Regions from separate parts of the Homo sapiens genome. Here regions 2 and 3 are each reported to be linked to region 1. The links are microRNA targets in miRTarBase. Many come from high-throughput screens and were not tested one by one. Region 1 holds a microRNA gene; each other region holds the end of a gene's coding sequence.
The links. Region 1 holds the annotated microRNA hsa-miR-515-5p (UUCUCCAAAAGAAAGCACUUUCUG, at 1,753-1,776, shown strand). A microRNA usually pairs through its seed, bases 2 to 8, with sites in the 3' UTR of a target mRNA and lowers its output. Matches are read on the target gene's strand: a 7mer-m8 pairs with bases 2 to 8, a 7mer-A1 pairs with bases 2 to 7 and ends in A, and an 8mer does both.

Region 2: the mRNA of TTC33 is a reported target of hsa-miR-515-5p. Seed matches in the 3' UTR shown: 8mer at 1,440-1,447, 7mer-m8 at 1,007-1,013 and 7mer-A1 at 687-693.
Region 3: miRTarBase lists GINS3 as a target of hsa-miR-515-5p. Seed matches in the 3' UTR shown: 7mer-m8 at 2,077-2,083.

The regions. Positions count from the first base shown.
Region 1 is chr19:53,683,270-53,686,625 of GRCh38, forward strand. It overlaps MIR515-2 (microRNA 515-2), which reads left to right and starts at 1,740; the gene lies at 1,740-1,822. It overlaps MIR519C (microRNA 519c), which reads left to right and starts at 3,200; the gene lies at 3,200-3,286. All of the region lies in intron 2 of LOC107985342 (a long non-coding RNA gene), which reads left to right.
Region 2 is chr5:40,713,283-40,716,638 of GRCh38, forward strand. TTC33 (tetratricopeptide repeat domain 33) reads right to left here. Exons shown (of 5, transcript NM_012382.3): 5 at 1-3,216. The coding sequence ends at 2,863. It also overlaps a transcript of PTGER4 not described here. Among named protein-coding and RNA genes, the nearest start is that of PTGER4, 35 kb to the left of the region's middle.
Region 3 is chr16:58,404,299-58,407,298 of GRCh38, reverse strand. GINS3 (GINS complex subunit 3) reads right to left here. Exons shown (of 3, transcript NM_022770.4): 3 at 1,152-2,800. The coding sequence ends at 2,570. Among named protein-coding and RNA genes, the nearest start is that of GINS3, 13 kb to the right of the region's middle.

The DNA of each region.
Region 1 (3,356 bases):
GTGTCTTCTGGGAGAGAGAGCCCCTGGGATTTTCACTCTGCTCCCTGGCTGTCTTAGTCATGGAATCTGACAACAGAGACTCCTGCCCAGGGCCACTTCATTTGGTTTCTGGAGCCCAGTGGTCCTTCCTGCCTGGACTTGGGATCTTTTGGGGAAGTTTGGGATCTGGCTGGGCGTCTGCATAATCCATAGAAATCCCTGAGAGTCACTTCCCTTGGCTGACATCTCCATGTTCCTTACCCATTACCTTCCAAAGGAGACCCTTATCTGAATTACCAAAGGGGGCTTCCCAGAGCAGGGAAACCTGGTTAAATTTGTATTTCAGATTAACAGTATACTTGAGATGTACTTGAAGTAGAAATGATTGGCTGTGGGTGTCGGCATTTGTTTTTTCTAATTTTAAATATGGGACCATCATGAATTTGGGTGTCACTTTGTGCAGGGGACGTGGGAATCGCTGTCATTTTTTTTTTTTTTTAACATATGCTGCCAGAGAAGGCACTTAGGTGGAGAAATTACTCTTCGTGTGAGCATTCAGTATATAGAACTTCCTTTTCTGGGGGCAGTGTCTTATATATGATACACATTTTATCATATCATCTTCTATAGATAATATAATGATTAACACAAAACACTCTTCTACACACACAGAATACTCTTGTATCACTTTGGGTTTTTTTTCCTTCGTGTGTGTGTGTGTGTGTGTGTGTGTGTGTGTGTGTGTGTGTTATGAGACAAGGTCTGGCTCTGTCACCCAGGCTGCAGTGCAGTGTTGCAGTCTTGGCCCATGCCCCACCGCAGCCTCTGGAATAGCTGTCTGCAGGCCAGGCACGGTAGCTCAGGCATGTCGTCTCAGCACTCTTGGAGACCAAAGCAGGCTAATCACCTGGAGTCAGGAGTTTGAGACCAGCCTGGCCAAGATGGTGAAACCTCATTTCTACTAAAAGTACAAAAATTAGCCGGGCGCGGTGGCTCACGCCTGTAATCCCAGCTCTTAGGGAGGCAGAGGCAGGAGGATAGCTTGAGCCCAGGAGTTTGAGACCTGCCTGGGCAATACAGTGAGACCCTGTTCTCCACAAAAAGAAAAGAAAAAAAAGAAAAAAAAATTTTAAAAATGCAAAATTAGGTGGGCATCGTGGCACGTGCCTGTAATCCCAGGTACCCCAGAGGCTGAGACAGGAGAATTGCTGGAAACCTGGAGGCAGAGCTTGCAGTGAGCTGAGATCACGGCCCTGCACTACAGCCTGGGCAACAAAGTGAGACTTGTTTCAAAAAAAAAAAAAAAATTTATTGAGGAGCTTTTATGGCCTAGCCTGTGTTCTATCCTGGAGAATGTGTGTACAACAGTGTATATTCTTAAACATCATCTTAGATTCCATTTTGGATGCTTGCATGGGGACTGTGTGTCCCTGTACTGGGACTTATGTGAACACTTGGCTTCAAATCCATTGCTGTTCTCTAGAAATCCAGCCCAATTCTCATGGTTAAATATAAGGTATGTGTGGTAGGCATTGCTTTTTCTCTTTGGGGACAGAACTCAGGAGGATTGTCTCTTGATGAACAAGGCTAACCTGCTGAGCCTTTGAAGCAAGGAACTGGAGATGGTCCTTTTAGGGGTTTATATTCTGGATTCCAGAAAACATGCAGAGAGAGTCAATAAATGTATCTTTATTTTTGTGTCCATTTTAACCAGGTGAGGAAAATTCCGTCAAAAAACCCAGACTTTTGGAGCGAGAAGATCTCATGCAGTCATTCTCCAAAAGAAAGCACTTTCTGTTGTCTGAAAGCAGAGTGCCTTCTTTTGGAGCGTTACTGTTTGAGAAAAACCACGTTGAAGTTGATGCTGATCTTGGTAACACATTTGCAGAGCGTGCTTATCATCAGACTTGCATGATGTTGGGGTTCTGTTTTTGTTTAGTTGTTTTGCATCATGGGGTCTCTGTTGCCCAGGCTGGAGTGCGGTGGCGCTTCCAACCTAGATCTCTTGGGCTCAAGTGGTCCCGTGCTTGCTTTTTTTTTTTTTCTTGAAACAGAGTCTCTGTCTCTGGCCCAGGCTTGAGCGCAGTGGCATGTTATCTGCTCACTGCAACCTCTCCTCCCAAGTAGATGGGATTACAGGTGCACGTGCCACGACGCCTGGCTAATATTTGCATTTTTAGCAGAGATGCAGTTTCATCATGATGGCCAGGTTAGTCTCCAACTCCTGACCTCAGGTGATCCGCCTGCCTCAGCCTCCCAAAATGCTGAGATTATAGGTGTAAGCCACCCAGCCTAGCCTCCAATTTTTTTTAATGTGTGCTGCCAATGCAAGCACATATGTGTAGGAATTATTTTTCATGTGAGCACATAGTATATGGAACTTAATTTTTATTGATGTACGGTCTCAAAAATATATATTTTATCATATTCTTATTATACATGTAACATAGTCATATACACACAAAACACTCTTCTATACACAGAGAATACTCTCGTATCACTTTGGGTAATTTTTTGTTTGTGTGTGTATGTTTTTGTTTTTTTTTTAGATAAGGTCTGGGTCTGTCACCCAGGCTAGAGTGCAGTGGTGCCATCTCAGCTTATTGCAACCTCCACCTGCCACTTCAGCCTCTTGAGTAGCTGTCTACAGGCGCACACCACCACGCCCGGCTAACTTTTCTGTTTTCTCTACACATGAGGTATCACCATGTTGCCCAGGCTGGTCTCAAACTCTTGAACTCAAGTGATACTCCTGCCTCAGCCTCCTAAAGGGCTGGGTTTAGAGGTGTGAGCCACCACACCTCACCTGTACCTGTGTGTTTCTGCTCATTTTATTGAGGAGCTTTTACAGCCTGGCCTGTGGTCTCTCCTGGAGGGTGTTTGTGTGTGTGACAATGCATATTCTTCAACATCGTAGATTCCATTTTGGATGCCCCCGTCGGGACTGTGTGTCACTGTACTGGAACTCGAGTGAACACTTAGCTCAAAATCTATTGCTGTTCTCTAGAATCCAGCCCAATTCTCATGGTTAAATATAAGGTATGTATAGTCGGCATTGCTTTTTGAAACAAGGAACTGGAGATGGCCCTGATAGGGGTTTATGTTCTGGATTCCAGAAATCATGCAAACAGGGCCAATAAATGCATCTTTATTTTTGTGTCCATTTTAACCTGGTCAAGGAAAATTCCAACAAAAAATCAATGGTGCTGGAGCAAGAAGATCTCAGCCTGTGACCCTCTAGAGGGAAGCGCTTTCTGTTGTCTGAAAGAAAAGAAAGTGCATCTTTTTAGAGGATTACAGTTTGAGAAAAGCAACGTTAACGTTCATGCTGATCTCGGCAATACATTTGCAGAGCGTGCTTATCATCAGACTTGGAT
Region 2 (3,356 bases), not on the chromosome of region 1:
TTAATTTTCTTAGTGCTGGGAAAGGCAGTGAAACAAGCTTTTGAATCATTATGTAATTTTCAAACAACTAAAAGGGCTATACTGTTCAGTTATAATCTTAAAAATTCTAGCTGAGACAGAGCTTTTAAAAAATCTTTATAGTTTTACCATACGGCATCAATTCAAAAGATTGTCATACTGAAACCACTGCCATAAAATTTTGTATGTAGGCCCCAGTTGCAGTAGATCTGGCTCCTGTGAGCTATAACTTGCATGGCTTTTCAATGTTTATGTAGTGTCTGTTAATATATTTAAGATAAATACTCTATAACCAAACAGCCTGTTTTCTAGAGAATGATATATGATTCTTGTGTTATCAGGCATGGTCTGGATGTCTAGACACTCTGACTAATGAGTGTCTATGCCATACAATTCTCAAACAAGAATAATGTAAATTATAGTCAATATAACTTGAACAGTAAACAGTGTTATTTCAGAAAGTATATTAAACATCTATATCATTATCATGAACATCAATTCTCTTCAGATTCATAAAGATTTGTTATTAAAATTAACAAGCTTAGTCTATGTTTGTATATCAGTATTCACATCCTTGTAAAATAATGGGTGCATTTTTCTCTTCACGCATAGAAGAGTATGAGCTAAAATAAGCATTTTGAGGGGCCTGCAGAAATGAGCTGCCTTCCTTCTCCATAACTTACTGTTTCTTTTTCTCCTCTGTCTTATGTCTAAACTATTTTATGTCTTATATCTGGGTAAGAAAGAGACTAACTTGGCCTACCATGCCAGTACAGAGGAAACACTAGGTTCTTATAACAGGGCCTAGTGGCCACATGCATTCCATCCTGAGTCTTGCCTCTTTGGGACTTGAGCTATAGACCCTGTCAAGAAAAATCCCACTATCTCTCCTATAATACTGGAATCAGAGACTTCTTACTTTCAGATAAGGAAAGGATTACAAAAAAAGTTCTCCTTTTTTAAAATCAGAGGAAATTGAGGTTAAATATCTCCAAACTAACTCAAGTTCTTCATAGAAATAGCTAGCATTTACTGAAATAGCTGGCATTACTTCATGTGTGAGGCACCATGCAAGGTACTTTAAATATATTAAGTTCATATAAGAAAGACACTAAGTAGATCAATCTAATTTTTCAAAAGCTAACAACATAAAATAATAGGAAAATCTTCAAAATGCAGAAAAAAACTATTTATTCACAAATTACACAAAAAACAAACATCCATTACTCAAAACAATATACCAAATGTTGAGTACTCACTTCTCTAGATACCTATTTACGTTTTGAGAATGTTCTTTATTAAACAAAATAAAATAATTAACATATTTTTTGGAGCACTCTGAAACTAACCTCTCTAACCAGAGCTAATTTTCTGATGATATAACTTAAGGAAAGAATATTCTTTTCAAGGCAAGTGCTAATTTCTCCAACCCTGAAAAGAGATATGCATTCCAATAAAACAAAAGTTTTAAAAACCATCTTCATAAAAAATGTAGATCATTACTTATAAGCTCCAACAGTAGTAAGATCTTTAACATAAAGTGGGCTACTTTCATCTCTAACAAAGATAAAATTAATACACCAATAGTATCTTCCTGAGTGTCAGAAGTAACAGAACCCAACAGTTCTATATTATTGTACTACAATATATAGTATAAAAATAATAGTTCAGATTAGCAATGACAGTATTGGTTTGTGAATATGACTGTGGACTTTCAATAAAATTTTTTTTAATATAGCCTTTTCATACTCATGAGATTGTACTATAAATCACATTCCAATTTCTATGTATTTTGTGCTTAAGTTATTTATTCATTGGCACTCTAATAACAGCCCTACTTTTTTATTTTTAGAAAGATATAATTAGCTATTTAAAATTGTAATTATTTTTCATTTCACTGAGTAGTTTCAAAAAAAGTTATCTAGAAAAGTAATTCCCAGTCATCAAATGGAAAGACACAAGCAAGAAGTAAGTTGTTTCCAGGGTTTTTAAAGCTTTGTAAAATAAAGAAAAGAAAGTATTGGTTTTGACTGGGATAATATAGCAGTACAATTGTCATTAACCTATCTGTAAAAGCCATTCATTTAAAAATGCATATTTTAAAAATGACTCATTTGTGGTAAGGATTACTTACTGTAACAATTAAAAAATAAAACCATCATTCTCATATTTATCAATACTTTACACTTTTACCAAATACTGAAGGAGACAACTATCATTGTTACAACTTCAAAGTCAAAACAGAAACACAAATCAGAATTAAGAGAAACTTCAGAAAATGTTCAGAATGTACACATTTGTGTGCATTTTCAGCCAAACTTTCAAAGATTCCACATATAACCAAATGACAACTTTGAATCAAAATGAATGTCAAAAATATTCAAGCTTTCTGACAGACTTACTCTAATGAAGCAAGAAAAAGACAGCAAATATTAAGCGCAGTATATTTCTCAGAGGGAGGGAAATCACACACTTCCTTTATCATAAAACAAAAGTTGAGACAGCATTTCAGTAACATTGATCAAATTATTCACTATTCAAGAATACATTTTTCAAGTTTTGTCTTTAAAATGTATTCATTTACATATTCAGATTAAACTAAGTTTATTAATCAAAGACCATTTTACTCAGAATTTTAACCTTGAGAAATATAAATCATAACTTATCAAAGCATATTCCAAACACTATACAATAATCCTGCCATTTTAGTTTTTATATGCCTCATCTGAAAAACATATTTTACAACCAGGCGTTCTCCTATCTATCTCCAGAGTAAATGTCTCTATGTCAAAACTTCAAGAGGCAATCAAAAAGACAGATTCAAATAATCCTATGCATACTGCTTCATCGGGCTTTGATAAAAACAGAGCCATCTGGTGGTGTAGCACCATCCTCCTTTTCAGTTACAGTCTCTATGGCCCCAGAAGCAGACACAATAACCATTGTTTTATTTGCTGAAACTGTCTTCTCTTTCTCAGCAATAGCTGCACAAACAGCAACAATCTCATCACTTTCAAAGTCATAGTCTGGAATTGACTTTGGTGAAAAGTGTGTTACTTCAGCTGGTGCTTCACTTTTTTTAATCCTCTGTGCTACCTTCTGCTGCTCCTGGAGCGTTCTTGCCCAAGAGAGGTCTTCTTTCCATATTTCAGGGTTCATTGGATAGATGTGAAGGGCTACTTGAAAACTTCGAATTGCCTAGAAAATAAGGTCAGAGTTTTTTGTTTTGGTTTTAAAAATTAGTATGTTTAATACAATCCTGTGTGTTTACGTACATATATACTGTACACATACACATCCTAATGCATTATCTTAATGTACTAGAACACAAAAGATGG
Region 3 (3,000 bases), not on the chromosome of region 1:
GAGAATCGACAAGATTGGATATACTTCTTAACAAGAGCACTCTGGCTGCTATGGTGAGAAGAGTCTGAAGATGGAGTGGAGGGTGAATGCAGGGAGGCAGTTAGGGGGTGATCCCAAAACTCCAGGAAAGAAACGGTAGGGGCCTGGCCCGAGTGACAGCACCACAGGTGATGGGGAGGTGGCCGGATGCTGCAAATGATTTGACGGCAGACCCAAAAGATATGGAGCGTGAGAGGAGGAAGGTCAGGGGGGGACATAGCGTTTTTGTTCTAAGCAATAGGGAAGGATGGAGTTGTAAAAAATGGAGATGGGAAACATCAGAGGAGGAGCAGGCCGTGGAGACGTAGAAACATCAAGCAGGGGATTGGATACAAGTCTGGAGTTGGAGGGAGCGATCTGAGCTGGAGATAGGAATTTGGGAGCCATCTGCGTGGAGATGGAGAGGCATGGACAGCCCAGAGCCACCCAAATCCAGAGGTCACGAACAGCAGGAGGAATCAACAGTGACAGAGCCTTGCCCCACTGCTCCTGGCAGCCCACACTGTCCCTGGGAAAAACCTATATATACTGAGGTCTTCTGTCTGTAAGGCCACAGTCATGTGGGAACAGAGTGCTTCAGGGGAAAGGGCACAGCTTTACTCCCTGGAGTTTGATAGCAATTTGGTATTTGAGCCCATTTGTTGTGTTTTTTGAAAAATTAACCTCTTGAAGGGACCAAATCAAAATCTAAACGACTAACTGGAGGGCTGCTGGGGAGAGGGGAAGTCCGACAGGCTTGAAGGCAGATCTGTAATTGAAAATGAGTTCAAAAGCTACATGTAATATAATCTGTTCAAAATGTAAAATAGGGGCTAAGTTTTGGACATGAATACCTACATATTCCTGACACATGGCCCCTGAGGAATTTCTTTTTTTTAGGAAGTAGGAAAAAATGGCAGCAGACTTAGAGTTGACTTTAAATATAAAGCTATGTGTGAAAAGAATGATGCCAAAAGTTAAATAATATGCTTTTCTCGCTCTATGAATGGTTTCTCGGGCCCTGGCTATATATAAATGCTGCGGTAGTAATGGAAATCTCATCTTCCTAGGACACAGCACCCTCCTACAGAGAATGTACCTCCTATTTATGTGTACCACACAAGCAAAAGAGCAGCTGCTAAAACATGGATTTGTGTATTACCGTCAAATATGATCAAAGACACAATTCTGATAGCTTTGATTATCTGTAGTACTAGTGAAAGAGCACTTGTACAGAACATATTCATGTACAAAGCCAATCATTTATTTAGCACTAAAATCAAATTATAAAAACAACAATTCCATCTTAAAACAGGCATTTTAAAAGCATTTCTGTGGTTCTAAGTTTGCATCAAGACAGCCTAAGTTTGCATCTGCACAATCTGGATACCCAAATCCCTCTATAATTTCCAAAGACAAAGACAATTTTTGCTAGTTGTGAGGTGTCAGGGGGAAGCAGTGATGCCCTGCAAACAGTCTAATGGGCCCAGGGAACCCTGTTTCTTTCTCAACCTGAGGTTGCATCCTTGATCTCCAGGAAAAGAGATTAGTGCTTGCTTAACCAGGTTCCTAGTAAATGGTCAGGGATCTTCTATGCAATAATGTTGCAAAAGTTACTGAAGAGGAAAAAAAAAGCACAACGGAGGCTTCTTGCCCATTTACACTTGCAATGTTAGATTTTGAAAACAGGGCCCTTCATAGTCAGCACCCAAGTCCTGACTTCCAGATGTAATGCAGGCTGGTTAACAGCCCTTAATAACTACATTGCAATTCCAAACGACTCCCTGACAGCTTTTCTAGACAGGGAGTAGAATTAAGTGTGCGGGTGCTCTTAGGCTCTCCGAGGCAATAACAAGCTCAGTTTAACCATTTCCCTTCTGGGTTGACTGCTGAGTTATGCAGATTCCAGTTCATTAAGCCCTGAGTATAGAGTATGAGGCCAACATCTTTTCTTTAGTAAAAGCCATGCCATTCGTCTGCCTTTCCCTTTTCCTCCTTTATCTGGGCGACTGTTTTTGGAAACTGGGGTAACTCCCTGCAGGCAGGCAGCAGGAGATATCTCCAAGTCAGGCTGGCATGGTGGGGTGCTATCCTCTGTACAACCATGAGGAAGATGAGGCAAATAAGATCAAGAGAGCATTTTGTGAACAGGCGATGACCCAGTTTGTACCTGTGCTTTGTGGCTAGTGAAACTGTACATCTGAAGCTGTCCAAACTCCCAGACACAAGGAATCTCAGTTGCAACTCTACTGTGATATATTATATGGCAGTGATTCTTATTTAGGAAGGACTTTGATTTCTCCTTGGCCATGGGTTCTTGGGTTAAAGGGCCTGGGCTGTGGGTCAGCAGGGTGGGACGGTCCTGGAAGACTCACAGAGCCAGGGACACCCACATCCTCCAGCATGTCCAGTTCCCTATAATTCTCTATGGCCACAGGAAATAAGCCATGAAATGGGACAGGATTCTGGTTCTGTACAAGGTCAACCAGCTCCTATCAAGGACACACGGAGGGATACGTCTGTGAGGAGCCATTCTGTGTTCTTCCGGCTTTCAGTCTTCCATATCAGTGAATTTTCTCTTCTTGTAATTCTGAACGAGGTTGGAAGCTGTGATCTGAGAAGCCTGCCCCTTCTCCCAACACTGAAAGTCATTCAGTCCTTTCTGCCCTGTTTGAAATAAGCCCCTCTCCATCTCGTCTAGCCTGGCTACCAGGGCTGAAGTGTCTTCGTTGTAAGCATTCTGTGAGGAGTCCATGATGCGGCGAAAACGTCCGATAAAAGTCTGGGAAACAAGGGAGTAAGACAAGTCAGGGTTGACCTCACACCCCACAAAGTCATATCCATTTTTATCTCAGAACATTTAAATGGCATGAAAAGAAAGAATGATGTGTAGGACTCAGAAGGAGGTCTGAATTCCCTCTAGCACCCAAGTAAGTTATTGCACATTGCCATGCCTCAATTTCCTCATCTGTGAAGTGGATT